Regions from separate parts of the Homo sapiens genome. Here regions 1 and 3 are each linked to region 2. The links come from fine-mapping of genetic effects on gene expression. A gene starts in region 2. Each other region holds a variant in brackets. All regions are shown on one strand. Distances are from middle to middle. Region 1 overlaps CPQ (carboxypeptidase Q). Region 2 holds the start of CPQ (carboxypeptidase Q). Region 3 overlaps CPQ (carboxypeptidase Q).

Region 1 (10,431 bases), 400 kb before region 2:
ACTCTATACTTAAAACATTTTGTTATTTCAATAACTTTAGGGGTACAGTGGTTTTTTGGTCACATGGATGCACTGTATAGCAGTGAAGCCTGGGATTTTAGTGCACCCGTAACCCGAATAGTATACATTATACCCAATAGGTAGTTTTTCATCCTTCATTCACCTGCCATTCTCCCCCTTTCTAAGTCTCCAGTGTCCATTATACCACCCTGTTTGTCTTTGCATACCCATGGCTTAGCTCCAACTTATAAGTGAGGACATGTGGTATTTGGTTTTCCATTCCTGAATTACTTCACTTAGAATAATGGCCTCCAGTTCCATCCAAGTTGCTGCAGAAGATATTATTTCACTCTTTTATGGCTGAGTGGTATTCCGTGGTATGTATGTAACACATTTTCTTTATCCACTTATCTATTGATGGACAGTTAGGTTTATTCCATATCTTTGCAATTGTGAACCATGCTGTGATAAATGTACATGTGCAGGTGTCTTTTTGATATAATGACTTCTTTTCCTTTGGGCAGATACCTAGTAGTGGGATTGCTGGATAGAATGGTAGATATACTTTTAGTTCTTTGAGGAATCTCCATACTGTTTTCCATAGAGGCTATACTAATTTACGTTCCCACCAGCAGTGTATGAGTTCCCTTTTCACCACATCCACGACAACATCTATTGTTTTCTGATTTTTTAATAATGGCCATTCTCCCAGGGGTAAGGTGGTATCTCATTGTGGTTTTTATTTGCATTTCCCTGATGATTAGTGATGTTGAACATTTTTTCATATGTTTGTTGGCCATTTGTATATCTTCTTTTGAGAAATGTCAATTCATTGAACTCTATACTTTTTACCAAACTGCCTACTTGACCTCTCCACATGAAAGTCTGATATCTCAAACTTAACAGGTTCAAACCCATACTCCTTATCTCCCCCTTTTCCCCCTGCCTAACTCCCCTCATTTCAGTTGTTTGGGCCCCAAACTGTCAGTTTATGCTTGACTCCTCTATTTCTCTCATACTCCATATGCAATCCACCATCAGATTCTGTTCGCTCCTTCCTTAAAATATTATCTGCAGCCTGACAACTTGCTATGCCTTCCACAGCTATCATCTTGTTCCAAACTACACTCTTGTCTTGCCTAGGCTATTATCTTTCTTCCATTCTGGTTCCCCTTTAGTCTGTTCTCAACCAAGCAGCCAGAATGATTATTTTAGAAAGTTGATTCAGATCATGTTTCTCCTATGCTCAAAAGCCTCCCATAGTTCCAACCTCACTCAGAGAAAATGGCCCATGGGGCTTGACTCTGCCTGGGCTTCTTTATATTGACTTCTTGTCCTACTGCTTTCCTTTCACTGCTCCATTTCAAGCACATTGGCTTCCTCCCTATCCCCTGAATGTCAAGCATGGCCTCCAGCAGCACCTTTGGAACAACTCTCCATCTTCGCTAGAATGCTCTCCTCCAGGTATCCACGTGGCTCTCCTCTTCATCCTTTCAGGTCTTAACCAAATATTACCACCTCCATAAAGTCTGCCTTGTTCCCCTCTATCAAAAATTAAAACAGCCCCCTCCTCATGTACTCTATCTCTGCTCCCTGTTTTATTTTTCTCCTTAGCAGTTATTTTCATCTAACATACAATTTTACTTATTTATCCAATTTATTATCAGTCTTGATTCACTAGAATGGAAGCAAGATGAGGGCAGACCTCAAAACACTGCCTGGCACTTAGTAGGCTCTCAGTAAACATGTGCTGACTGAATGAATAAATATATGCATGTATGTGTGTGTTTAAACACATATGTGTGTATATTTGTATATGTGAACCCATGCGAGCATGTAACTAGATGCCATTTTGGATGATGGTGGTGGTGGTGAAGATAATGATTATGTTGATGATGATGATGTGGTTACTCATGTTGGTGATAAAATAACATCAGTTTTTCAGAATCTGTTTTCCTTTTTAAAAAAATGTTCTCAAGAAAACCTACAGTTCCACAATTAAAGTTATTAGCTGAATCTTTACTGTGTATGTTATAAAGCACTTAATAATATACAAATGTTTACAACATCCATTATAAGTGCTAAAACAAATGCTTTCCAGGAGGATATATAGAGTGATAGTGATTTTTTAAGAAGTGGCCATAAATTATCAAAATACAAGTGAAACTTCAAAGGTCCCTTCAATAATGGAATAAGATGCTCTTATTTTGGAGGCTAGGTGGCAAAATCTCCTCCTTCTCAGGTGAAAACAGGGCTGAATATATTCTCAGTAGACTATATGTCATCATCATTTTGCTATCAAAGATGAGACTCCCATATGTTAGACTCACCAAAATAACTTGGCCATTACTCAGGAGGAGAAGGAGATGAGCAACAGTAACTGAACTGACAACATAGAATTTAAAAAATATTAAATATATAATATTTTAAAACTGTATCTTTGTTGTGCTAAAGTTAGCACATCATGAGGCTTATAATGCATGTGTAATCAGTAAGACTCAATTACAGTAACTAATAAATGTGTCCTGGGACTACTTAGATTTTTAACAATCGCTTCACATATTTTGTAAGTTTTAAAATATTCAGGCAAGATGAGGAAAATAATAAACAGATGAGGCAATTTAGCTTTGAGAAGAGTTAACATAATTTAATGGGTATAGTTTAGATAAAGAGAGGCTAAGGAATTATAGCAATTACTGAAAAAATCCAAATAGGTACCTGTATTGAACTAAGGGAGGTGAAGAAAAACAATTTCCTTCATCTGAGAATAGTAATAAGTAGCAGCAATAATCACCTAAAGGTAGAAGAGGAAAATAGCTATGGTAGAAAATAGCAGCAAATATGTCGGGAATAATGATCATTCTGGGGAGCCATGTGAGGACCACTGACGGGATACTGAACACTAGAAATCCTCAAGGAGGGTTGAATAAAAAGCATTAGTCAGACACTCAGACCTCTCCTCCAGTTTCTCTTTGGATATCTGTGTTCTCCATCAAGGGCATCATTGGTGTTTAAAGGATGTGCAAGTGACTAGGGCAACCATGCTGAAAAGGTTGTCAGTCTCAGAGAGGGGTGGACACTACAATACCCACCTCTATAGTGCTTGCCACTGGGGAGCAAAAGGAGGTGATGTACAAGTGCCAATGCCATTTGATGCACTTCTCAGCCATAAGGTAAATAATATTAGGCAAGTTACTTAATTACTCTGAGCCTCAGTTTACTCATTTGTAAAATGGGAATAATAGTTGTTTTGCAGGTTTATTCCAAGGCAGCAAGTCCTAATCGGGGTCCCTTGGGGGTTGATACACTTGGATGAGCTCTGTGAACTTGAATGGGAAAAAATTACATCTTTATTTTTACTAACCTCTATGTAAAATTTAGAATTTTCTTTACTTATGAATGTAAGCAACAAACTTCAGTAGTATTAGCAAAACCTGTCACTTTGTTGCTGGTAGAAATCATAGATCTTTTCATATCACATTAGACTTGTTGCAGAAATCTCTAAGTATTCTTTATGTTCATCATTACTTTGATATCATAGTCATAATTAAATAATCCTTCAAGATCTTGTTTAATTCATTTGGAAAACCACATATATAACTATATTGCAAATTTAGCTTAAAATTTTTGGTAACTATATTTTAATAAAATTCATATCCTTGTAATACTATGCATTTTATTTTATGCATTCAAAAATATTATTTGAAAAGAGGTCCATAGGTTTCACCAGATTACCAAAGTGGCCTGTGGCACAGCAATGGTCAAGAACCTCTGTTGGGCAAATGGTAGCTTTATTAGTAAGGTAGTAATGGTGATTATGATGATCATTCATAGTGTTATTATTATTAAACTCAATGGAATTAATTTGCCCTGGACCTGTGGGTTGGAGTACTGGTTCTGTCACATAATAGCTAAATGACCCTGGCAACCATTAATCTCACTGAGCTTCATATCCTCATCAAAAAGAAAGGGCTATTTAATAGGGTTGTTCTGAGGATTATATAAATTTAATATATTTATTTGAAGGGCTATAATATACCAAGCTATTCTGTTCTCTCGAGGCATTGTTATTACCAACAAAAGTGACTAATAAGTAGAGTAACCATTACTTAAGTTGCTATGTAGGCCAGGAAACTTTTGAGAGTGAAAAGGGATTCTATTAATGATTATGTCAGGACAATGGGTACAAGCTGGACTCTCAAGCAAATCAGGACCAAAAGGCTACTTAAGCACAATTTTTCTAATTTTTTTGAAATGGGGTCTTGCTACGTTGCTCAGGCTGATCACAAACCCTGGGCTCACGCAATCCTTCTGCCTCAGCCTCCCAAGTAGCTGGGATTACAGATGTGCACCACCACGTCTGGCTTGTTTTTCTGATTTTTTGCATCTCCTGTTTCTGCCAGTATAAAATTCAAAAGATAAAATACCATATTTCCCTAAATGTAAGAATCACAGTATTCTCCTTTTTTAGCATTTTGGAAATTGGAATGTATCTTGTTATTGATGCATTCCATAAGAAAGTTACCAAATTCTAGGCAAATAAACAAACATATTCATTGTATTGTATTCATATATTCATTGTCATTGTTTGTCCACATGCAAACTTCATCACACAGAAAGGGCCCTGGATAATGTATTTTACACTTCACTTATTTACACTGGTATCAACACAGATCATTAAATTTTAAATTACAGTCCATAATTATTGATTAAAATTCTTCATTATATTTTGATGTACACAGAAGATTGATTTTCATGTGTGAGGCAAAACAATGAAAAACAATAGAAATCGCCAAATCTTCAGAATAGACTCTAGAGTGTTCAAGGTGAGCAAAGACTGGTGTAGCCAGCCATGAATCATGGAGGCCTCCCACTCAGGTACTAAGCAATTTGCCAAAAGCTCCCTTAGAGTTTCAGGAGAAGCTATATGGCTTACAGAAATATTAAAATTAAAAATTAAGTGTAAAAAACTTGGCCAAATTGAAAGTACAGAGGAAAAACGTGTTCAATATGCCTTGTAATAGGCTGCCAACCACAAGGGTACACCTTTAGCACCTTGTCAAAACAAGGAGCATGGGTGACACAAAGTGGCCTGGCACCTTAATGCCAATGCTTCACTGCTAATGACCAAAGGGTTCAGAGACATCTGCAGACTCTGGATTGAAGGTATTTTAGACATGGATTGATTCTAAAAACAAAAGTGTTGGGCACTGTATGATATTGTCAGTTTAAAAACCCCTGTGCATTTAATGTAGTTTTATTTTTCCTGAAAATTTGTATTAATTTTAATCGCACCACTAACAATTGACGATCCTTAAATCAAAGAAATGGAGAACTGAATACCTTCTAACCCATCTCAATGTGTCACTATTGAGTTTCCACTCCCCTTCCTCAAGCTCTACTATTTTCTAGTTTAAATTTGAGAATGCAATTATTTGACATTCAGTTGTTCTAACTGGGGAGCTGTTAATGGTGGTTGTATTTTAAAAATAAAAGTAAGTTTATTTCACTGCAATTCATAATCTGATTGCTTTGAACCACATTTAAGAAAAGCAGTACAAGCCAGACTGTCGCAGCTGGCAGCTCTGCCCTTTGACATCCTTTGGGTCTCCTTCTCAGTAATAATGTACTCACATAAATATCACTGTCCTATATTAATGGTAAAATATCTGCTGAAGGAAGGAGGTGTATTATACACATAAATTTAAAAGGCATTTTTCACCTAATCAGAGTAGTCATAAGAAAAAAGCACTTCACTCCACTTGAAAATTTCAATATTATAAAGTCCAGAATTGCTGGTTCTTATAAAGACGATGCTAATTTATTACTTCA[C/T]TCATGTCACTTCCATGTAATGAAATAATTAGCTGGGAAATTATATTTGCATTCTCAACACTTTTGTACAATAGGAATGTCAGTATAATTAGGCATTAACTACAATTTCAGAGAATTGAAGGTAGCAGCTTTGTGTACAAGTGAATATTTTTTTTCCCTTCATTTGCTCCATTCTTATCTTGGTGATTCAGAAAAAGATGTTTAAACAGAGCCTTTCAATGAAAGCCATCACAAAAGTGTGCCATATTAAGGTAATTGCCTACAAGATGAGAAGATAGAAATCTTTCTGCCAAATTCTTTGGAAACCAATGGGCTTCATGCCTGAGGCACCAACAATTTGTTAAATTTTTGAATATGTCCTTCATTCTCATTTTCCGTTCCACCTCTGTTGTATTAGGCTTTGGCAGCTTAAGCTCTCTAAAAGGGGCAGCTCCTGATCACAGCCACCTTTCATTGAAGAAGAACAAACACCAATCCATTCTGGCAGGTGCAGTTTTCCAATACATTCAGAAAACAGTTTGGGAAAGAAAGTATTAACAAACTGAGCTCTCAACTGTGAAGAAAAGAACATGTTAAAGGTTACAAATAGTTTTATCTCCTGAACAAGGAAAGAATGAATTAGAGTCCACTTTTTTAGAAACTAAAACAAAACAGTGTTAAATTATTTGTGCTTTGAGTTTAGTTTGCAAGTAATATTTAAATGTCTCTTTTGCAATTCAGAATTCATCCCATCTCCCAGTCATTGATCCTTCCTTAGTGCTTTCATGCAAGAACTACTAAGGCAACTGGGATTAAGGGACTTTAACTTTTGGAGACCTACAGCTACTTTCCTTTATAATTGCTCCCCCAATCTTCTAAATTGTATTACTTTCTTTTATAATTGCTCCTCCAATCTTCTAAATTGTATCCTTCAATGAAGAAATCACTAAGTGGACCTGGCCAGGAATATTCTCATTGTCTGATAGTGTTAAAAAATACTGACATACGTAAAATCTCTATCCTTGGAGATCTTTAAATATAGCACAGGTAGGGGTCCATTCTGATGTATCCCTGTCCTTGGTGTTTCGGGAATGGTTATCCTGAAAGAAGAAAGCCAGACTTGATTTTTGGAGGGTCTTCACATATAGAGTGTCTAAGCTCTATACACATGGGAAAGATATAAAAACAGACATATACATGCATTATTTCCATCTCTCAAAGGTTAGGGTTCTATTCTCACTTTTATTTGAAGATGAAGGCAGTGAGAAATGTCCTAGAGTAGTATGTTAGGGTGCCTCCGCTCTGAACGCAGTCTTTTGAATAGTGAAATGATTTTAACATTTATTATTATTAGAAACAGTTTTTCATATCATTAAAAGATCTCTGAACTTTTTAATTTTTCTGTATTGTTTAGCTAAAACTTTACCTAGAAAATGCCCCAAACTAAAGGAAAATTACACAGATGACTGAAGTGAAGTGTTGTTGGTTATTTTTTTAAAACTCATTGTAGCAGGATTTATAGAATTAACTTCGTGAACAAATACAAATATTTATTTTTATACCAAGAAAGTGTGAATATAAAACATTGAGAATTACTAGTGACAACTGATGTCTGCATGGTTACACAATATCCTTTGGCCATTGTATAGAATTGATACCATGCTATATGTGTTTTAAACTAAGCACCTTGAAGCAACTTCTCCTTTCATCTATTTATATGTTACTGATTATCCAGCATTCCTAAATATGCTGCTATGTATGTCCTTCAGTTTATGACAAATTAGTAGATATCTACATTTAAGATGGTGACAGAGAAGTATGTGGTCATAGAAGTCATGGCTGAAGTCCAAGTTCAGGCTCTGCACCTTATGGGCTGTGCTATGCAAACTTGGGTACATTCTTCACTTCTTTGAGCCTCTGTTTCTTCATGTGTGAAATAAGGAAAACAGTACATGGTCTGGCAACCACCAGGGTCATTACTATCATCAATGACTTGATGTCCACGAAAGCGTAATTTATAAATGATCACATAGATGCAAGAGATTATAATGCCATCTTTTAAATGGTAAGAACTTGTTACATATTTGTTTGGGAAATGGGACCTTTCAAAATTCTTGGTGGTTTCTTTTCTCTCTGTAAATCTATCAAAACAAAAATCTCTAGCACTGAAAAAAAACAAATTACTTTTCCTTACGTGGAAAAAATGGGTAATTTTCACAAAGCACTTTTCTGTCTGTCTACTATTATGTTCCTTTCCCTTTGACCTTTCCTAATTCAAATGACAAAACAGTTTGATTGCCTCTCATTTGGCTCTGTGAGTTATAATAAAGTATTTTCCAGAGCTTTGGAGGGGAAAAAACACTGCCAGCTATGGCAGTGAGGGCAGGTGGATGCTGTACGTTCTTCCAGCCCTCAGTTACTACCTGGAGAGTTGCCTGAAACACATTTACAAATATGGCACTGCCTCTGATTTCACAGGGGAGGGAGTGCATCTGATTGGATGAGTTTTATTAAATGAAACTATAGGAATCCATAAAAGCAAATTACACTCCCGTTTTAACTAGTAACAGAAATTCTGTTTAATCTTAAATAAATCATATGATGAAACCACTTTAAACCTTTGTTGAAAGGCCTTGTTAAGCTCCCTAAATTTGAATTGTTGTTTATACATGTTTTGCTGTGTGGGGTATAAAAGCTCTTTGGAAATGGATTTTGAGAAACTCTCCTTTAAGACAACCCTGAAACCAAAACAGTTTAGACAAAACTGCTGGTTGCTAGGGGCAACCTCAGCTTCTAGAATGAATAATTACAAATGTAGGACAAGCATTTGATGAGAGTACACGAGAGAGGTCTTCTGGAAAAAAAAAAAAGGAATAGAAGTTCCGATCTGCTTAGGAAAAAAAAAAGTATGCCTTTGTGTTTTTTACACACATAAGTGAGTCAGCAGAAAATACAGATGTGACCCAATTGATAAGGAAATCAGAAAGCTAGACCGAGACCAGCCTCTCAGGGCACACATGGTATCTTTAAGACACCACAGGATTTGGTTAATATACTCAGGAATGATCAAGTAAGATGAGTAGCAGAAAGAAAGACAAAAGTGCTCACTTTGCACTCACAACAATGTCTAACAATTCTGGGGCTCAGTTCCCTGCCTGATCTTCAGCCCTTAAAGTAACATAGTTTGGGTATTGCCCATCCTGGCTTCTGGATACTGCGTCTCAAAGTACAAAGTGGATGTGCCAGCGAGGAGCTGCTTTCTGGCATTGGCTTTATGAACAGCCCTGCCAGTACTTCTGCTCGTGCACTCCTCAAGCTGTCTTAGAGAGACCACTCTTTGATGTTTACGTGTTAGTGTCGTGGAAGCACAGAAAATCACAGTAACCAGAAGTAGAAGATGAACTTCCAGAAGGGCTACTGAATACCCAAAGACCTAATGATCTTTGGGTCACTTGGGAAGAGCCTCTCTCCCAGAAAATAATTCAGGTTTAAAAAAGAAATACTGAGCCAAGATGGCTGAATAGGAACAGCTCTGGTCTACAGCTCCCAGCATGAGCGACGCAGAAGACAGGTGATTTCTGCATTTCCATCTGAGGTACCAGGTTCATCTCACTAGGGAGTGCCAGACAGTGGGCGCAGGACAGTGGGTGCAGTGCGTCGTGCGCGAGCTGAAGGAGGGCGAGGCATTGCCTCACTCGGGAAGCACAAGGGGTCAGGGAGTTCCCTTTCCTAGTCAAAGAAAGGGGTGACAGACGGCACCTGGAAAATCGGGTCACTCCCACTCTAATGCTGCGCTTTTCCGACGGGCTTAAAAAATGGCGCACCAGGAGATTATATCCCGCACATGGCTTGGAAGGTACTATGCCCACGGAGTCTCACTGATTGCTAGCACAGCAGTCTGAGATCAAACTGCAAGGCGGCAGCGAGGCTGGGGGAGGGGCGCCCACCATTGCCCAGGCTTGCTTAGGTAAAAAAAGCAGCCGGGAAGCTCGAACTGGGTGGAGCCCACCACAGCTCAAGGAGCCCTGCCTGCCTCTGTAGGCTCCACCTCTGGGGGCAGGGCACAGACAAACAAAAAGACAGCAGTAACCTCTGCAGACTTAAATGTCCCTGTCTGACAGCTTTGAAGAGAGCAGTGGTTCTCCCAGCACGCAGCTGGAGATCTGAGAATGGGCAGACTGCCTCCTCAAGTGGGTCCCTGACCCCTGACCCCCCAGCAGCCTAACTGGGAGGCACCCCCCAGTAGGGGCAGACTGACACCTCACACAGCCGGGTACTCCTCTGAGACAAAAATTCCAGAGGAAGGATCAGACAGCAGCATTCGCAGTTCACGAAAATCCGCTGTTCTGCAGCCACCGCTGCTGATACCCAGGCAAACAGGGTCGGGAGTGGACCTCTAGCAAACTCCAACAGACCTGCAGCTGAGGGTCCTGTCTGTTAGAAGGAAAACTAACAAACAGAAAGGACATCCACACCAAAAACCCATCTGTACATCACCATCATCAAAGAACAAAAGTAGATAAAACCACAAAGATGGGGAAAAAACAGAGCAGAAAAACTGGAAACTCTAAAAAGCAAAGCACCTCTCGTCCTCCAAAGGAAGGCAGTTCCTCACCAGCA
Region 2 (10,431 bases):
AATGCCTGGCTGCACCTGCTTCCTAGGTTCTTGTAACAATCAAATATAAAATTGCTTTTTAAATATAAGGCGCTATGCGAATCTTTTTTCCAAGGAAGTCTAATACCACTATATCAAGAGAACACTGCGTTGATCTGCCTTTTTCTTTAACACCTGTTTGTCATAGAATTCCTTAAATTCTCTGAAAAATTTCTCCGAATCATTACCCTTTTCATTTTTATCTTATTTTCCCTGTTACTCTTTGCTTAGTTCAAAGTCTCCAAACACTTTCTCTGCAAAATGAGATCAAGCCCTCTGCCCAGCACCCACACCTGTTTGTCTCTTCCTGACAAACTGAATAAGATGAGAAATCAAAGCTTGGGATATCTTACCATTAAAGAAGTACAGTTATTTGGAAGCGCCAGCTCAAATTTCTTCTCTGTATTTCATATCTGCCTATACCTGTGTCTTCAGAAACCACTGCTTTCTGCAACACTCCTGCCATTTCCTTATCTTTGTTCCTTTGAATGACTCTGGTCTGTATTTCTCTTTTTCAGTTTCTCCTGGCAGCTTATAATAACTCCTCATTGTTTGAGTCTCCAATCTTTTTTCCTTCACTGGCACTTACATAAGAATCAGAGTTCTCTAATAACTTGCCTGAAATATAATGTAATGGTCATTAGATAAGTATGATGTATTTTTTAAGTGAGTTATTAAATTGATGTGTCTTTTTAGACTGAGGCCCTATTGTAATGTTTGGCCAAGGTCTTGACTGTGTGACATCACAGCACAGCTACAGAAAAGGCTATATCCTGGGATCTCCACCCAGATGTTCCACAGCTACCTCTGCTCACTCACCGTCTTTCTCCCGAAACTTCTTCCTCACCTTATATTTCTTACCCTCATTAGTGGCATCTCCACTCACCCAGTTAAGCAATTCCAAAACCTCAGATTATTTTCAAACATATTTCCCATATCCAGCTCCAGCTAGTCATTAATCCTGCTCTGTCTTCAAATAGTCTCTCAAACCTATCTTAGTTTAGATCCTTATCCTATTTCATTAGACCTATGGCAATAGCATCTTCATTTTCCTGTGGCCTTCTGGCTCTTCCTTCCCCAATTCTTCTGAAACATTATTACTGTAGCTATTTTCTAAGGAAAATCCAATCATATCATTCCTCTGTTTAAAATTCAGCTTAAAAATGCTGAAAAGAGCCAGGCACAGTGGCTCATGCCTGTAATCCCAACACTTTGGGAGGCCAAGGCAGGCAGATAGCTTGAAGCCAGAAGGTCGAGATCAACCTGGCCCACATGGCAAAGTCCCGTCTCTACTAAAAATAAAAAAATTAGCCAGGCTGTAGTGGTGTGTGCCTGTAGTCCCAGCTACTTGGGAGGCTGAGGCAGGAGAATCACTTGAACCGGGAGGCGGAAGTCGCAGTGAGATCTTGCCACGGCACTCCAGCCTGGGTGACAGAGAGAGGCCTTGCCTCAAAACAAAACAAAACAAAAATAATGCTGAAAAGGATTATCTAGACTGTGATAAAGTTTAAATAACATGACATTCAAGGACCATCACTGTCTGGCCCTAACCTTACCACACCTCCCTACCACAGCCACACTGAACTCCCATCTCCTGAAGAATGCCATGTTCATACTTGCCTCCTTTTCCTTGCTCTTGTTGTTCTCCATTCTTGGAATACCCTTCTCCCTCTGCTTGGTCTTTAGGCTTTAAAACACAGTTCAAAATTCACCTTCTCTGCAAAGTCTTCCTGAGTTCCAATCATACCTCTTTCCTGGAAGAGTGAGTGGCCACTACTTCCACATTACCCTGTGGTGCAATTGTTTGCAGATGGGTCACTCTCCTATTTAGATTTGTTCTCATTCATCTTTACCTGTCACATAGTATACACTCAATAAATGGTTATTGAAATTAATATTTTCTGAATAAAATAAAGTAAAATTCCACAGATCCACAAGTACATCCCTCCAAATACTTTGCTGCATTAAAGAAAAGGGCCCAGGAATAAAGAGAAAGAACTAATAATGTGACTGTAACAAACACATGAATGGGTTGTTTGTTTTTAAAAGCTAAGTGGTTTAGGGAGGGTAGGGGAGAAGAAAGTACATTTTAAAGCTCTAGCTGCAGGGCAAGTAATAAAAATTGTTGCTTTAATGTTTTTTTCATAATATTGTGAGCAATGGGAAGGTCTATTCCATCACACCAGCCTTCGGGGCAGAAAGTTTCAGCCTCCTGAGCTAAATCAAACTGGCATCAGCTCTTAGTTTTTCAGGCGGCCACAACTGGTCTCTGCTTTCCATGGGGCTAAACTTGGCTGACGAAAAAGAAACAAAATAATTTCCCATTTATTTTATGGGCCTCTCTTTTCGTCTTTTGCTCTCTTCAATTAATTATAAGGGTTCTGGAAACCCATCCTGCATTCTTGTCTCTGGATTACACAGATGTAGGCATTGTTCTTTGTCTATACTAGGGGTTGTTGGTCTTATAAAGAAAGAGGTTGGGAGGCAGTGCCTTACCAAGGGCACAAAGCTAGTCCAAGAAACAACACTGCTTAGCACTCATGGTTCAAAGCCCTTAAGTGCCATTCACTGATGGCAGCTGTCGATGTCACTCATTTTATATTCCCTAAATTGGTAAGTCTGAACACATTTAAAATTAAGATGCATGGGCACCTAGGTCAAAGTATCAGAGTCTCCTGGAATCTCAATGGAATTCAATAATTTTCAAAATGATAAAACAACCAACTCCCCTATAATTCAGTCTTCATCATTTCACCCTGTGCTCTCATTCTAAATTCATTTACCCAAATAACCCAGGGTTTGTATATATGCTTGAACACACACAGAGACCACATTCTTCAAAGTCACACAGTTTTTCCTGGCAGGATTGTCTTGTTTCTGGGAGAAACCCTGTTTCCATCTGCTTGAGTTTTGAGTCCTAACTCTCCCATTTTCCATGTACTGTTTCTAGTTAAGAAGATCAAATAGGACTTACCATAGTATCTAGCTCTTAGATATATAGTGATGATTAAATGGGGCAATATAAGTAAAAAGGTTAAATATAACAGTGCCTGGTGTATGGTCAGTGCCCCATAAATATCAGCTTTGTAACATTCCATGCCTGTATGACACATGACCTCATTGGGAAAACAGTGTGAGAAAGTTGGCCCTTTTCACCAAGCAACATGTGTATTCCACTTCTCCTTATAAACTTGAATTCACTGAAGTAGGTAACATTAATTTCATTTTACTTAACACATTTGGAACTTTGTGTTTGTTAAATGTAGCATGCAAAAATATTTAAATATGTATGTATAATGACTTTTGAAGTGCCTTTAAAAAATCTCCAAGGTCCTTCCAGCTCCAAAATGTGATCTATGATAACTAATCTCAAATGCATGCGAAGAAATAGTGATGCAGTTCCCCAGATATACTGGGAATATATGGCATTGTCAGACTGGGTTGCACTGGAAAAAAGTCAGACCCAGGACCAGGAGCCTGTGACAATGTAGAAGAAAATCTTACCCTCCTTTCTCCCCACCAGCCTAGGGTTTATTACACTTATCTTGAGCTCCCAGGCTTTCTTGTTGCAGATGTGGAGAAGAAAGGAAATGAGCTGTAAACAGCAAAGAAGAGAGCAGAGACAAAATGCTATGGGAGGTGAAGTAAGCAGAACTCCATGAAATCATCTGTAATTTCACCTTCTAACCCTGATACAAAAGAATCCCAGAGGTTTAACTCAGGCAGGGTTCCTAGCTAAACATCTTCATTTTGGAGATTAAGAAATTAAAACCTAAAGAGATCAAGTGGCAAGTCCAAGGTCATCCAGCTCTTCTGGAACCTGGACCTGGCAAGTAAGAACGGCTGCAGTGACCAACTGTATTAAAGCTATGTGCTAAGCCTATTTGTTTACAAACAGATAAGCGTCTTTCTGGGCCTTATGTAGCCTTCTTCAGTCACCTGCAAATCAGCCAGCACCTGTCTCAGGAAAACAGACAAGATTCTTAACAACTCTGAATTCAAAAGAAAAGCCTGGTTTTACAAACAAGTCAGAGTCATATGGTTCTGCCTTCAGAGTCACCCTTATCTTTAAGAAATACATGAAATAATATTATAGTGACAATGATTCTTTAAACGTCCAAAGTAGAAGTGAACAAAACACAAGCAAGAAAAAACCTAGGCATATTTTGTTTTAAGCAAACACATATAGCCAAGTCCAACAAAAATGGAAATACCAGGGGGCGTTTCCAGAGACCATTTGAACAGCATAGAACTCTTTTTAAGTGGTCCCAATCAGAATGCCTCCATTTGCAAAAGTGCGACATTCACACAACTTTTTGGAAAGCTATCAAAAAACAGGAGTTGTAAGCCTGCGTCTCCACTGCTTCCACTTCATACATCTTTATTTTCACTCATGCACTGATTGATTCAGCTGTATCTCGTATGCACTCATTTATTCACTTACTCATTTGTTAATTCACTCAGTTCTACGGCATAGGTACTCATTCAATTACTTATTGAGTAGCTCTGAGTCCTAAGTCAGATGGGACTTTGCCCTCATGGAACTTCGATTCTAGGAGAGTCCAGTAGCAGAAACTAGACGCATCAAAAGCGAAAGTACACGGTAAAATGCGAAAGGAACCCCAAAAGAACTGCATAAGGCATATTGGAGGCTCAGGGGGACCAGGATTGTTTGCAGATGGGGGATGAAGGGGGCGGCTTGGGGCTGAGCCCTGGAGCTGAGGGGAAGTGAAACCGTGTTGGGAAGGACGGCTGAGGGCCGTGCTCGCTGCTGTCCCGCAGCACCCTCCACCACCCCCACGTCACAGCTTCCCCATTTCTAGGCTCGGTGACTCCACTGTCACCGAAGGGGCAGCCACAGGCTCCCAACCCGCCGCTCCCCAGCCAGGTCCTCCCGTCACGCCCCCGAATGAGCGATGCTGGAAGTCCGTCCCCCTCTGCCCCCGCCCCTGGCCTGCTCCAGCCTCAGCCCGCCCGACCCCCGCGGGTAGGAGCCAAGGCCTCGGCCCAGCCGCCCGCGGGCACTGCCAGTTCGGCTGCAAACACACCTGATAGGGCGGCTCTGACGGCGGCGACGGAGGCGGCTCCCAGGACTAAGCTCGCGGCCTAGCCTTACGGTGGCGGCGGCCACACCCCTGACTGGGCTGGGGCCCTCCGCGCCGCCCCGTGACTGCAGCCCTGCTTGCCGGCCAGGCCGCGGGGCCGAGAGGCGGGGCAAAGACCTGACTCGGGAAGCCGGGGCGGGCGCCGGGTTCGGGCTGGGGGCCACCTCCGGAACGCCTGGGGGGTTCTCACTCGCCCTCCAAGGGCGACCTCAGGGCCACAGATCGGCCGGAAGGCTTCTCAGCTTCTGGGCTGTGGCTCCTGTTAGAAAATTGAGTGTCGCCCTGGGTCCCGAGCCCCTAGGCCTGACTCCTTCGTGCAGGGGCGTCGCCTTCAGACTGGGTGGTGCGCAGGCCAGGGCCGCGTGCTTTTCAGAAGCGCAGCCTCAGGCGAGGCGGGCGGCAGGGGCCTGAGAAGGCTCATGGCTTGGCAGAAGGGTCCTGTGCTTCAGTGGGTGCCCGTGCAGGTGGAGAAGGACGGGGCTGCGAAGCTGAAAGGAAAACGTGAAAGGTTTTTGTGTGTCTCTGAGCCTGAGTAAAGGCCATGCTTTCTGAGCTGTCAAACGCCTCCCAAAGGGAAGAGATTATTAAACCGTTTTCCCACCCTGCCAGGTGTAGGATTGTTAGGCGGTGATGATGGAAGGCAGAGATGACCCGAACTGAGAGATCAGAAAAAGCGTTTTCTCTTTCGTTTGTGCCTGAATTATATGAGGGTGCCCAAGAAGAAAGGAGACTCATCTGATTACCCGGTGTGGCTTATCTCAACAAGTCACACGCATTCTGGTCACAGAGTATGTGCTCAGTGTTTTCAATGCTTTATGTTTTGATAAGTGCAAATTCCTTTGTTTAACGAAACTCTTATCAAATACAAACAGTTATCTTTGTGAAACACTGAGCAGTTCCAGTCTCTCCTCTTAACTAAAAAAACCAAACAGAACTTTTAATTAGAAAAGAAAAGAAAGAATAAGCACATGCCTACTGGGAAAAAAAAAATACCATAAAATGTGCAAAGTCCACTCACCTTCGGTTAACAGTCCCTCTAAACCTTACTAGTCCTGTTGCCCACTGAAACAAGTGTGAACTCTGAGGCATTGGAGGGTCCACATAAACATGGCCCTGGCCCACCTTTCCCGAATCATCTCTCGGATGCCATATCTAACCCCACTGAATTACTTTTTTCTCAAACTATCAAGGGTAAAAGACAAGTTTTTATTATTTCCAATCTGACATGGACCATTATTTCTGTAAAATACAAATCAAAACCTGCTAGCAAATAAGAAAAGAGACAAAAACTACAAGCCCAGTTTTTATTACAAGTGTACAATGAGTATGCCAAAAAGTATAAAATTAGTTTTTCAATTATTGGTTGTTGTTGTTGTTTTTATTTCTAAATGCTTACTCACAATTTCTATACTTACCTGTTCATGGAGCAGTAAAAAGCTGTTCACTGACTGGCGGTGGTTGGATTACCGTTTAAGTGGCACTGACTTGCTGTTCTTTAATTATGTCAAATGCTTTTCAACTTCTGGGCCTTTTCTCATGTTTAATGTGAACGAAGTTCTTTCCCACTCAAGTTTCAACTCGTAATAACAATAAAAGCTTCACATTTATTGAGTGCCTTGTGCTAAGATTTTTGATGCATTAACTGTGAATTCTTATTTGTCCTATGAGCTACCTATTATTATCATTATTATTTCCCCCCACTGTACAGATAAGGAGATGGAGGATTAGAGAGGTCAAGTCACAAAACCAGTGAGGTACAAAGTCAGCATTAAACTGAGCTGGCCTGATTCTGGAGCCCAAGCAATCAACCAACATGCTGGGCCCCTCTCTGTGAAACCTCCCCCATTTGCTTTCAAGTTGAAATTAATCACTCTTGCTTACACCTCTACTCTAACATTTTTTCCCGTTGGTTTTCATTCATGTCAGCTTCCCACGCTAGGCTTTAAGCTTCTGAGTACAGTGAATTTGTCTGCTCACACTAATCACAGGAAGCAGAGCTCATTCGCATCTTTGCATTACCACTATCTTTTATGCTTACTTCATGATATGTTTTAATTATTTATTCTTGTCAGCATCCTCTACTAAACCATACAATGTTCAGAGTTATCTTACCAAAGATGCTTTTATTTATTTAATTGAATAAGCATTTCTATAGCATGTATAATGAGCCAGGTACTATTCCAAGAATTTTAAAACCTCGCAAATAGACCTATAGATATTATTTTATCCCTCTTTAAACTGTGAGGAAACTAAGGCATAGAGAGGTTGCAGTAAGTTGCAGGACCAGAATTCCAAACCAAGCAACCTGCCTGGCTCCAGAATCTATTTCTGAGCCACCATGCTATGTTGATTTTCCACAATACCATGTGTTCTTCCTACTTAGAACACTTCACTGCAGGGAGATCAATCCATAATGGCCAATTAGAAGCCCCTGCCCGCAGCACTCAGGGAGGAATGAGAAGGGGCAAGTGAATTCAGTACCTTCAACTGAAATATCCAGGTTCTCTCATTGGGACTGACTAGGCAAACCACCGGCCCATGGAGAATGAAGAAAAGTTGGGCAGGGTGGGGAGCCCACCTCGGAGCAGCACAGAGCCAAAGGAACCTCCACCCTCAGCCAAGGGAAGTGGTGAGTGATTGTGCAACCCAGGAAACCATGCTTCTCCCATGAATCTTTGCAACCTGTGGATCAAGAGACCCCCTCATGACTCCACACCACCAGGGCCTTGAGTCTGATACACAGAGCTGTGTGTTGTCTTGACAGAGCAGCCACTCAGGCACATACAAAGAGGCCCAGAAGTTTTACATACTCTGGCCACAATCATCAGCAAGGCAGGAAATCCATCTGTAGGAAGGGGGCTGAATCCAGGGAGCCAAGCAATACCATTCTTCAGGCCCCACTTACATGACACCCCACAAGTTAAGACCCACCAGCTTGGAATCCCAGCCAGCCAATGGCAGTGGATAGGAGTCTGCCTGAGACAGGTTTGAGTTCCCAGCAGGTGGGGCAGCTGCCGTCTCTGTGATTCAGCCGACTCAGCTGCTGCAGCCTCCTGGATGTGGAGAATACAGACGGTCTAAACTAGGAAGGGTTCCCTCTGCTACAATGCAGCACACCTGCCCTACCAAAAAGCAGCCAGACTGCTTCTGTAAGCGGGACCCCAAGTCATTCCTCCTCGCTAGAGAGGACCTCCTTAAGCCCCTCCAGCAACTGTTTTATGAACAGAGCTCTGATCTCTCCCTGGGACAGAGCTCCTGGAGGGAGGGGAGGCCATCATCTCTGCAGTTCAGTAGACTCAGCCATTCAAGCCTGCCAGCTGTGGATAATACAGATGGACCATACAAGGAAGGGTCCCCCACAATGTAGCACAGCTGCCTTGCCAAATTGCAGCCAGACTGCTTCTTTAAGTGGGACCCCAATCCATTCCTCCTCATGGGTGGGTCCTCCCTGCAGGAGCTTCAGTCACTCCAGCCAGGGCGCTATGGAGAGAGCTCTGATATCTCCCTGGGACAGGTTGCCTTGGAGAGGGACAACCACCATCTTTATGGTTCAGTGGACTCAGCTGATCCAGCCTACCAGCTGTGGAGAATACAGGTGGTCCAGACTATGAGGGCCCCACCCACCCCCACTCCCAGTACAGCACACCTGCTCTACAAAAAGCAGCCAGACTACTTCTTTGGGTGGGTCCCTAATCCCGTTCCTCCTGACTGGGTGAAACCTCCCAATGGGGGTCTCTAACCACCTGCTGCAGGTGTATGAGGGCTGGCAACAGATCAGAAACCACCCAAGATGAAGCTTCCAGAGGAAGAAGCTGGCTGCCATCTTTGCTGTTTTGTGGCCTTCACTAGTGATACCTCCAGATACAGGAAAAAGTGAGGCAACTGGGGTCTGGAGCGGATCTCCAGCAAACTGCAGCAGTCAAGTGGCCTGACTGTTAAGAGAAAAACAAACAAAACAACAACAACACCATCAACAAAAAAGACCCCACAAAAACCTCATTCAAAGTCAACAACCTCAAAGATTAAAGGTAGATAAGCCCACAAAGATGAGAAAGAATCAACGCAAAAATGCTGAAAACCCAAAAAGCCAGAGTGCGTTTTCTCCTGCAAATGACCACAACCCCTCCCCAGCAAGGGCACAGAACTGGACTGAGGCTGAGATGGCTGAACTGACAGAAGTATGCTTCAGAAGGTGGGTAACAACGAACTTTCCTGAGCTAAAGAAGCATGTTGTAACCCAATGCAAAGAAGCTAAGAAACATAATAAAACAATACTGGAGCTGATAGCCAGATAACAAGAATAGGTGAGAAAGGAATATAACTGACCTGATGGAGCTGAAAAACACAACACAAGAGCTTCACAATGCAATCACAAGTATCAATAGCAGAATAGACCAAGTGGCGGAAAGAATCTCAGAGCTTGAAGACTATCTTTCTGAAATAAGACCAGCAGACAAGAATAGAGCAAAAAAGAATAAAAAAGAATGAACAAAACATCCAAGAATATGGGATTATGTAAAAAGACAACCTACAACTGATTGGGGTACCTGAAAGAGACAAAGAGGATGAAACCAAGTTGAAAAACATAGTTCAGGATATCATCCAGGAGAACTTCTCCAACCTAGCAAGACAGGCCAACATTCAAATTCAGGAAATCCAGAGAACTGCAGTAAGATACTCCACAAGAAGATCAATCCAAAGACACCTAATCATCAGATTCTCCAAGGCCTAAATGAAAGAAAAAATGTTAAAGGCACTCAGAAAGAAGGGCCAAGTTACTTACAAAGTGAAACCCATCAGACTAACGGTGGACCTATCAGTGGAAACCCTACAAGCCAGAAGAGATTGGGGGCCAATATTCAACATTCTTAAAGAAAAGAATTCTCAATACAGAATTTTATATCCAGCCAAACTAAGCTTCATAAGTGAAGGAGAAATAAGATCCTTTTCAGACAAGCATATGCTAAGGGAATTCATCACCACCAGGCCTGCCTTTCAAGAGCTCCTAAAGGAGCTCCATGTCCCTGCAAAGGACATGATCTCATTCCCTTTTATGGCTGCATAGTACTCCATGGTGTATATGTACCACATATTCTTTATCTGGTCTATCATTGATGGACATTTGGGTTGATTCCATGTCTTTGCTATTGTGAATACTGCTGCAATGAACATATGCGTGCATGTATCTTTATAATAGAATGGTTTATATTCTTTTGGGTATATACCCAGTAATGGGTACCCCTGAACTTAAAAGTTGAAGAAAAGAAAACAAAAAACACTTCACTGCTTTTAGGATAGGACAAAACTC
Region 3 (10,431 bases), 290 kb before region 2:
TCATATTCATAGTTATTTCCTGAAATAAAGGCAAGGAGCCAAAGGGAAGAATGACAAAGAGGCACTAAACTGAATTTTTCCAAGTGTGGCTCTTAGAGCACCAGCATCAGAATTGTCTGTGACATCTGCATCAGTGCAGACTCCTGGGTCCCGCCCCAGATCTAGTGAATCAGAATCTGAGCATGGGTCCCAGGAATCTACATGTTTTTGTTTTTGTTGTTTGTGTTTAAAGGAATATACATTTTAATCAAGCACTCAGATGATTATAATGGATGGTATATTTCCAGAACTGCTCCGGATATTCCACCCAGGTCATGGGACTGAGCCATAAACCTATGTTGTTGGTGATGGATCTTCTGTATCAGCTAGAGGAGCCATAGGTTGTTTGACCTATGTCTCACCTCTTTTATACCCCAAGGGTCTGTTTTTCATTTGCTTGGTCCCTGCACCCAACCCAGCCTCAAACAGAGAAACCAAAACTACAAATCTCGCTGGGACCAAAGAAGGCAACTGGGCAGAGCTGGCCACCCTGAAAACTTCGCTCCAAGTAACCTGCCTCTATAGGATTCCTTCCTTAACATGCATCTGGCATTACATACAAACAATTGTAAGGGCTTAGGCTAAGGAGTAAGGTTTGCAAATCCAAACTCAGCCCCCTGCATTATGGGGATGAAAGAAGGGAATGGGATATGGTAAAATATCAAATAATTGCATTTTGTGGTTTACTTGTGAAATCAAGTTAAACAGTCTTTGGAAGGGCAATGCTATTTCAGGTTCTGCCAACAAAAGTAGCCAAATTGTTTCTCTAAGTTATGAATGAGGAATATACCATTCTCAGTTATTTAGATATTGCCAAATAAATTAATCTTCTCTAGAGGAAAGGATAAGGATAAACATTCCAGCTCATATATTACCATTAAAGAGATTCACTATTTCAGCAGTAGCTTGAATGGCTAAACACCTTCCTCTTTCACTTATCTGCCTTATTATCACTCTATCAGTTCAGTTTTCTTGCATTGCTATATTTAAAAATATAAAAATGACTACATTTAATTCATGGTTATGACAATAGGACTTAACAACGCAGTATGTATGTAAAGATATGAAAACAGTGCTTATCTCATCAAATAAAATCACAAAGTTTCATTCTAATTGTTTTAGAATCATGGTTCTCAGTTATATTCATGACATACCTAGCAGGAAAGAAAAACATCACCTCTGGCAGGATGGAATAGGAGACCTGGAGGAGCTTGGCAAATTTTCCAGGGTTCCACAGCATGTTAGCTGGGAAACCCTCAGTTCTAAGCTGCCTTGGTTGCTCCATCTACTCAACCTCATACTGACACTCAATAACAACTCATTACTACTAATAGTAACCATATTGTACAGTTTTAAGACATACTGCCATGCTTTGGACAGGAGCCTACAAAGAAAGAACTCTTTATAGAGTGCAAACTAGGGCAATATATGGGCAGCTGAAAGTCTGAAGCTGATTTACATGCAAGCCAGTCAGGACAAAAGATTAAAGAAACTAGGAACCCAGGCAAATTCAGCTGAGCTCTGGCATGCAAATAAAGTTTACAAATGAGAAAGACATCAAGTTTATAATAGTAAGAGTGCAAGGCCAGCACAAGTTCAGCCAATCCCAGCAGCTTGTTAAAAGCAGTTCTCCCCTACCCCACTGAATCTGCTTTCTGATTTCAAAGTTATATAAGCCTAGCAGCAGCAGCAGCAGCAGCAGCACCAGGGCACTCCATGTAGTACCCACATTCCATCCAGCCAGTTACCAAGTGCCAGATATGCTTCTAAGGGAGAGGGCCGAAAGCAATTTTGTAAGCCCCTGTGTTTTCATTTATGTGAATTTCTCAGCTTTTCTAGGTCAGAGAAACACTGGGTGATTACAAGCTCTTACTTATATGGGAGGGTGAAAAAGCATGCTGGCTCATTTTAAGGAGCTGACACCAGTTCCCAAGATTTGGGGAAAGAAGATGAAGTGCTTGAATGAATCCAAAAGGTATTCTTTTTAAGTATAATTAATTGATAGAACGTTTAATGTCTCCTGAAGGCATCGATAAAGAGATCATATGAGGTACTCTGAGTATTAAATTACCAAAGAAGACTAACTCCAGTAATAAAAGATGGGCTAGTTGATAGAAATTCAACTCCATGTAGCTCTTCCTACACTACAATGAGTAAAAAGCTGAAAACATTTTAGAGTATTGATTTGTTCATTCATTTAGCAAATACTCAGTAGAACCTACTTTATCTTAAGAACTGAAGTGAACTCAAGAAATACAGAAGTCAAGTTTCCTTCTCTCACTCCAAAAGACATCTGTCCATTCCTCATCATCCCATTTGCAGGCTACACAGTAATAATTCATTTGTCTTCTCCACTGGGTTTTAGTGAATCAGTGAATGAATACATAAAAGAAGCAAAGAAAGAAAGAACAAAACTAAGGAAGGATGAAGAAAGAGAGGGAGAGCAAGATGGAGCACTATTCCTTTCAAGAGTACACACAATCCAGTTTGCTGTTAAAGTCAAATTTGGTAAAAAGAAATATTTGGAGAACTGATGGTTTTCTCTTTTTGTATGTGAGCTAACTTCTCCATATGGTAGCAATGTTAACCTTCAGTTTTATGAACCATGATTTGTATATGGATTTCTACTAGAATTACATTTATTTTAGAGTTGGAAAGAATTGAAAGGCCCATTTGGCAGATTTGTTTTAATGTATTAATTATTTTTAAATATAATTTATTAGTAGATGACATAAACTTAGGGAACAATGAGGCAAAAAAAATAGGGCAAGAAAGAGAAAATCATTTTTACAGAGAAAAGTAGAAAAATATTTATTATGATAACAGAGTCAGACTCTCATTAAGTTTTTGCTTGGTATCCCTGAAAAGAGTATTGATGGTAAAAAGTTAAGCCTTCTGCAAATACCATGCACTAAGGAGGAAAAGGAACAACCAGAATTCTTACATACTTCTAATGGGAATGTAAATTGGCATAATCCCATTGAAAACAATTTGGCATTACCTAGCAAAGCCAAGTATGTGTAAACCTCGTGACCCAGAAATTCCACTCCTAGGTATATACCCTAGAGCAACTCTTGTATGTATGTGCCAGGAGACACGGACAAAAATGTTCATAAGCAGCACTGTTTGAAACAGCAAAAACTGGAAATGACCCAAAAGTCCATCAACAGTAGAATGGAGAGGTGAATTGCGGCATATTCACACAATGGAGTGTTATAAGCTATGAAAATAAATGAAGCACAGCTGCACACTGCAATATGAATGCTATGTTAAAAAAGCAAATTGTAAAAGACTATGTACAACTAAAACGGCAATTTTATAAAGCTTTTTAAAAAGTAACTATATAATATATTGTTTCAACATACTCATAATATGGAAAAACTATTTTTAAAAAGTATAAGAGAATTAACACAAAAAACTTCAGACTAGCATTGGCGGGGTGAGGGGACACAGGAAGACTGTATAGCAGGGGTCCCCAACCCCCAGCTAGCATACTGGTACCAGTCTGTGGCCTGTTAGGAATATGGCCGCACAACAGGAAGTGAGCATTACTGCCTGAGCTCTGCCTCCTGTCAGTTAGATTAGTGGCAGCATTAGATTCTCATAGAAACCCAAACCCTATTGTGAACTGCACATGCATGCTCCTTAGGTAATTCTAACTAATGCCTGATTGCCTGATGATCTGAGGTCAAGTAGTTTGATTGACTAAGGTCGATGGTATTAGTGATCTTAGGTTGAGAGATAAATTTACAGATGACTGTTTTATTGCTAGGCTTCATAACTCACATAGGTGGTACATATTCTGTTGTATATACCAACTATTACATATACATAATTTTAAAAAGTTCAGATACCTTGTATGACGAAATACTAAGCAGCCAATGAATAAAATAATTAAATTAGATCCATACATACTGATGCAAAAAGGCTTCAAGACAAATTGTGTTAACAAAAAGTCCCAGAATCGTACTACAGCACAATCTCATTTCTGTAACAAGGAAGCACAGAAAGTAAAAGCTCCTAAAACTATATGCTATGTATGTATTTGTACTGGAGACCTTCTGTTTGCCCCTCTGATCCACTCTCCACCTTTCTCCACTCAGCTCTCTGGCTAAGGGGGCTGACCTATATGGACTACATCAATAGGTTTTCTTGTTCCCTTGGCTTCCCATAGGGTTCAGTCAATGGGGGCGCTTAGAAGCAGAGAGGAAGGAGTGCATTTATTCCCAGCCCCTTTCCTGTGGTTGCTAAGAACTGGCTGCATC[C/T]CTCCATCACAGGTCTCAGTGCCCATTAGAGGGTCCTTTCTGCAGCACCCTTTCTGTGTCCAGGTTTCCATGACCACTTCCTCTCTGTGCCCCTTCAGATTTAGGGTTGATAATCATGATCCCCTGTGCTTTCCCTATACCCTCTCTACATCATATAAATAGTCCCTTTATTAAACTAAACCTCAATTATCCTAATTTGGTTTTGTTGCTGTTGTTGTTTAGAGACCAGGGTCCTGCTCTGTCACCTAGACTGGAGTGTAATGGCACCATGCTAGTTCATTGCAGCCTCAAACTCCTAGCCTCAAGCGATTCTTCCACCTTGGCCTTCCAAAGTGCTGGAATTACAGGTATAAGCCACCACACCCGGTCTAAATTATTCTAATTTGAATGTACCATCTGTTTCCTACTGGAATCTCAACTGATACAATTATATATGGATATGCAAGCATAGAAAATGGACTAAAAAGATACACAAGAGAAGGTTATCAGTTGTTAACGCTGGTGAAAGAAGCTAGAATTTAAAGAAGGAAAATATTAATGTTTTGGCCTTTACATTTCTGTATTATATAACTAACTTATTTCTAAGAGGAAAGTGTCATGTAATTTTTTGGGCAAAACAAAATTTTAAGAGTTCCAAAAAAATAATAATTTTTAACAATGCACAATCTGGGTAGTTTAAACAACAAACCAACTTCCTTTTATCTCAACATTCCCTGTGCCTAGCACAGTGCCCGACTAGCACAGCATGATAGGAGCGTCTAAGGAATGCAGACACTGTAATCCTGTGAATATTAAACCTAAAAGATATCTTAGAAGCAAGCTTAGCTTCTGTAAGGTTTAGTAATAAGAGGGAAGGGAGAAACACCTCTAGAGTCGCTCGACAGAGGCTTCCTAAAAAACATGGCAATTGACTGCGGGTATAGGCAACAACTGGACTGTCGGCTGGATCCTGGACTGCACTGTGCATACAAAGCTCACGTCCCAAGCCCTGTGCAGGCTGAGCTGTGTCATGGTCTCCAGACACTAGAATTTCACTTGACCATGTTCATACAAGTGTCTCTCCTAAGGTCTAAGGTCTGGCAGACTTCCAGTACTACTATCTCCTCTCTTGCTCCCCAGGGCCTGGAGGCGTTTCTTGATTATGAACTCAAGGCAAAATCCTTTGGCTACCATGCTATGACTACTGGACTGGACTCTATCTGAGCACCTGAAGCTGGGGGTGGCCACCGACACCTGCCTTACCCCAGCAGGGAGATTAAATTCAGGTCCAGGCTCCTCCCATCTGGCCCACTCAGCCATAGAAAACTAGCTCTGGCTAACTCAACTTGTCCTTCAAAACTCAGATTAGATGGCACTTCCCCTGACAAGGCTTTCCTGATTCCCTGAGTTTAAGTGCTCTCCTTAAATGACCCAAAGGCACTGTGTACTTCCTCTATCATAATATTTATTATACTATATTGAAATTGCCCATTTACTTGTGTGTAACCTCTCAAAAAACTGTAAGCTTTTTGAGGGCAAGACTAAGCCTTATGCATCTCTCAGTCATAAGAGACAATGACATAGAGTAGGAGTCATTAAATACTGGAAAGAAAAAGGGAGGAAGGAAAGGAGGGAATACCCAGAGAGGGAGGAGAGAGGGAGGAAGGAAGGAAGGAAGGAAAGATATCACATGCTGCTAAATCCATACATATGACAATACAAAATAAATGACCCTGTTTTATCTCCTCTAATGACTTTTAAAGCTATGGGAATGGAGAAATCAAGGTAAAGATAAAGTAATAGATACGTCATATGCTTACTGAGAACCTTCTCTCCACCAATAACTGCCAGGGTGATAAAATTGTGAGAAGAAAACAGACCATACTCCCTTCCCCAGTCTCATTCATATATGTGGAAAACTTTGTTTTTCAAACTTCTGATGTTTCTAAATGTTTTCATATACTTTCCAAATATCTCCCCAATATCTTTGGGATATTTAGATATTTCTGTATGTTTCCACTAATTGTTGACAGGCAAGAGATTTTGTGAGGTTGAGTTAATCAGCACTTGGTACAGCTATCAGAGACCTGTACTGGTTCCTCTGTGCTGAATTATCTCAAGAATTCTTTGCCAAAGTAATAAAAATTAATGTTTAATGTTGGCCTCTCTGTCTCTTTGATGGCCTTACTGAATTCTGTGGTATTTAAAGCATCACGGAAAGTAAATAATGAAGGTTTGATGTTGCTTTTTTAAACACAAATGAAACCATTAAGCAAATGAGTCAGAAATTATATAAAAGAACATTAGGAATTGAAACAGACCTGAAAACAATTTCTAAAAGATGTTAGGCAAAACTTCCATTCCATTCAGTCCAGAAATACTGCATTAGACCCACAGTAAACAATGCTACCTTTTAACTACCTGCCACCAATCTTACCTCCTTCCAATGTGGTCCCACTGTACCCCATTGCTGCACTGCATCTGGGTGAGGGAATGCAAGCACTTCATTCTTAACACACAAACCCTGAGTTTTCTCCAGGCACAAGAGAACTACACAAAAAGGCCACAAAAATGAGGGAAAGAATATACACAAAATTATAATTTCCTATCTGATGTTCACTACTTGACTTGGGCTCATAAGACATTGGTTATGTTCATGAGAAAGATAAGCAATACATGGTTAAGAAAAAAAAAAGAGGTAGACAAATTTGGAAAGCCCAGGTGTGAGGATAATGAATTAGCATTAACTTACAATTGTCTACATGTGGTTCACTAATGGAAACCTTTTCATCTCAGGCTGAGTTCCTGGCTATCATCAGGACAGAATTTATAAGTAAAGTATTTTATGCTATGCCACAAAGTAGATATTTTGTGCTATAATTTGAGGGAGCCTAAAAAACCCTGAAATACAAAATCTCCACCTTCTCTAACCCCCTCACTGGCCTTTCCATGGTACCCCAAATTTCCATGTTATACTCAACTAAAACACGTACAGTCCTTCACAAAAGGCTAATGCTATCAGGAATACAATACCTTAAACTGTTATCAGCTTGTGGTGGGTTGTGTGAGGGTGATGTGTGGGTGAGTGAACACATACTAGCTTAACATCTATTTCCCTCTCTTTTGGAAACAGAAACCTGGTAACCTCTTGGGAACCTCCTCTTCCCCACAGTCATCCATGGTTTGGGTGAGACTGACCTTGAGTCTTGGTTTCAGTGGTGGGTACCTGACCTAGTTTAAGACTATCACAGTTCTATAACCCCATCACAATGAAAGTAGGCACATGTCTCAAGCCAAATTAATGAAAACCCTATCTAGGACCTATGCCAGAGACATTTCTCTATGTTTCTTGGGATGCCAAGATGGTAGGATATACGCCTGTTGCCATTAAGGCCTTTTGGACACTATTTGTAGGATATAAGCCTGTTGCCATTAAGGCCTTTTGGACACTATTTGTAGGCAGCTTGCCTGAGAATGAAGCCACACTGAGAAAAGTTAAGCCTTGTGAAGGAGAGGCAAACACCTGACATCTTCTGGAAACCTGGATTCAGCCCTACCAAAACTCTTCAGTTACACAAGCCAATAACTTCCCTGCTTATCAAACAAGTTTCTCTAGGTGTTTGACGTTTAAAATCCCAAGAGTCCTGATTAATACATAGGTATTGATGTCCTAGGTTAAGTAATCAAAATGTATGGTAGAGAGAAATGTAGGCTGCATAGTGGAAGAAAGAACACAACTGGGAGACCGTGATGATCTGTCTCTGTTCCTTTTCTGCCCGTAAGTGCTTATCTTTGGGTATGGCCCTTCATAATAAAATAAGGGGGCTTAAAATAATGAACTCCGAGCTCCCTCTAAGCTTTGACATACTGTGCTTCTGGGTATGCTTTGGAGGGTGGAAATAAGAATCAAAAAGGAGCTGCTCTACAGGGCATATTTTGTAGGCTTGCAAAGTGGGGTGGGAGTGGGGGGCTTGTTTAGCCCAGGTGGCAGCAATGTGCAGGCAAAAAACGTGGGTTGCTCACATTAAGATGAATGGTCGCACAGACTAACTTCAATGACTTGACAATTTTCCCAGAACCAGTCCTGACTATCAAAGAAACAAACTTCTGAGCTGAAGTCAAGACCTTCCTATTATCCATTCTTCTCCACGAGTAAGGCTGCCCCAGAGGTGAGGAGATGAGGGAAGCGGCTGACATACTTAATGCGTGACTTGGCCCCTTTTGCTCAATCATGCCCCTGCCTGGAATGCCCTCTTCACTTAGCTCCCCCAGTCTAACACCTACTTGGCCTTCAGCATCCAGCCCGAGGGCTTTCTCCTCCACAAAGTCTTCCCATGCCATAGCAACACACAGTAATCTCTCTACCATCCTTAATCCTAGGCTTGTTGTGTGTTTCTCTCACTTAAAAATTACCTGATTCATGGATGGGCCTCTCTGCACTGATGGGAGACTCCAGAGAATGCCAGACATGACATGCCCAAGGGCACCCAGCTTCTCAGTGATAGTCAGATGAGAATCTAGGTCCCTAGACTCCACATGCAGAGCTCTTCCCTCCATATCCACTGATGGCTCCTACTGCTACCTTCTCTTCAAGCTCCTGTTGCATTTTCACCTCTTACTGAATGCCTTCCAGGTGCTAGGCACTGTTAGGTTCCTTGTGAACATTTTCTGCAATCATTACAGTTGTGGTAGCGGTACGTAGCACTATTCGCATTTTATAGATGAGGCACAGAGAAGCCAAGTGATTTGCTCAAGGCCACAGAGCTAAGGACAAGAAGAGCTAGGATTTGAAACCGGACTATCTGGTTGTGAAGCCATTTTTTTTTCTTCTCTATCACTGTCATCACCATCAATACCACATGGTCATCACTGCTATTACTAAGCAAGCAGCAGGAAACTTAAAGACATTACCTTACATTGGCTCCATCTTGCAACATGGGTATTAATCCCATTTCATTTTACAGATAAGGTCACTTCCCCCAGGAAGCTTTTGCTGACCACCACACCATAGAATAGTATGGTGCTCCTCCTAAGTGTTCCTCTGCCCTGTGTGCTTCCTCTCCCTGTTTTAGCATTTATTTAGTGCCTTGGAAACACCAGCGTTCAGTCTCCTCCTCTGAATTAAACACAACTTGTCGGTGTTAGAATGTCTTGTCAATTACTTGTTCAGTAAACAATTGTTGAATGAATGAGGGTGACAAAGTCCACAAGAAGCTACTGCTGATGATACAGGACCACTTTCCATTTCATTCTGGACCCTCTAACCATTTACTACAGGAGGGAGCATCCAGTTCCACACAGAGGAAGAACAAATGGGCCTGGGCTGCTGAGAAGAGCAGCATAAGGGAAAAGCTGTCTCCCTTTGACTGAAGCTACACACTTGGCGTTTTCTCACCAAATCTGATATTCATGACCTTGCTGGGGCCTACTGAAAGCCAAATTGAAGCTACTTCCAAGAGACAGATGGCAAAAGAGTGTAACATCTGCCAGGCCTTTCAAATCACCAATTCCCCATGGTGAGGGCTTGTGGTAGTTCTTTGCAAACATTCAGTGGTCCTCTCTGAGGCAAGCAAGGATTCTACCATCTGAAAGAGTTGACAAACATCATCTCTTTAATCTATTGTGGCAATTCTTAGAGAATAAATCAACTAGCAAGAAGCCAATGGTTGCTAGAGTGTGATGTGAGTATTTTAGGAAAGAACTTAATTCCTTATTATATGCATTGGAATCACAGCATTAAACCCAATTCCACAGCCGTCTACTCACTCATGCAGACATTTGTCCAACAAATATCTATTGCACACCTATTAAGAATCAAGCACTCTCCTAGATGCTGGAAAGATAATGGTGAACAAACAAAATCTCATATCTCAAATGAACTCTCTTACCTGAAAGAGGCTGCTCACAAAGCTGTTTGTACTCACTGGGGTCAAAGCACAGACAATTAATTCATCACATAATGTAGCACATCTTTTGAAAGACAGGAGGACCAAGGGGAAAGGGTCCAAGAACATGTAATTCACGATGACTGGAAAGGCAGTTTGGGGCTGGGTTGTTATGAGTAGGCAAGAAACATAATCAGCTTTGTATAGTAAAGTGGCATTTAGAGCAACTATACCATTTAACGAACTCTAGTTCGTATAATTAA

What was found. PIP is the estimated chance that this variant, and not a neighbour inherited with it, causes the effect.
Region 1: its variant is fine-mapped to the expression of CPQ in whole blood (INTERVAL, PIP 0.95).
Region 3: its variant is fine-mapped to the expression of CPQ in Th1/17 cells (Schmiedel 2018, PIP 0.95).

Annotation. Positions count from the first base shown.
Region 1 is chr8:97,044,518-97,054,948 of GRCh38, reverse strand. All of the region lies in intron 6 of CPQ (carboxypeptidase Q), which reads right to left. All of the region lies in intron 2 of LOC101927066 (a long non-coding RNA gene), which reads left to right. Among named protein-coding and RNA genes, the nearest start is that of TSPYL5, 230 kb to the left of the region's middle. The variant C/T (reference allele first, on the strand shown) is at 5,833.
Region 2 is chr8:96,640,038-96,650,468 of GRCh38, reverse strand. CPQ (carboxypeptidase Q) reads right to left here and starts at 5,227. Exons shown (of 8, transcript NM_016134.4): 1 at 5,067-5,227. RefSeq lists a silencer at 4,803-5,352.
Region 3 is chr8:96,932,492-96,942,922 of GRCh38, reverse strand. All of the region lies in intron 4 of CPQ (carboxypeptidase Q), which reads right to left. Among named protein-coding and RNA genes, the nearest start is that of CPQ, 290 kb to the right of the region's middle. The variant C/T (reference allele first, on the strand shown) is at 4,305.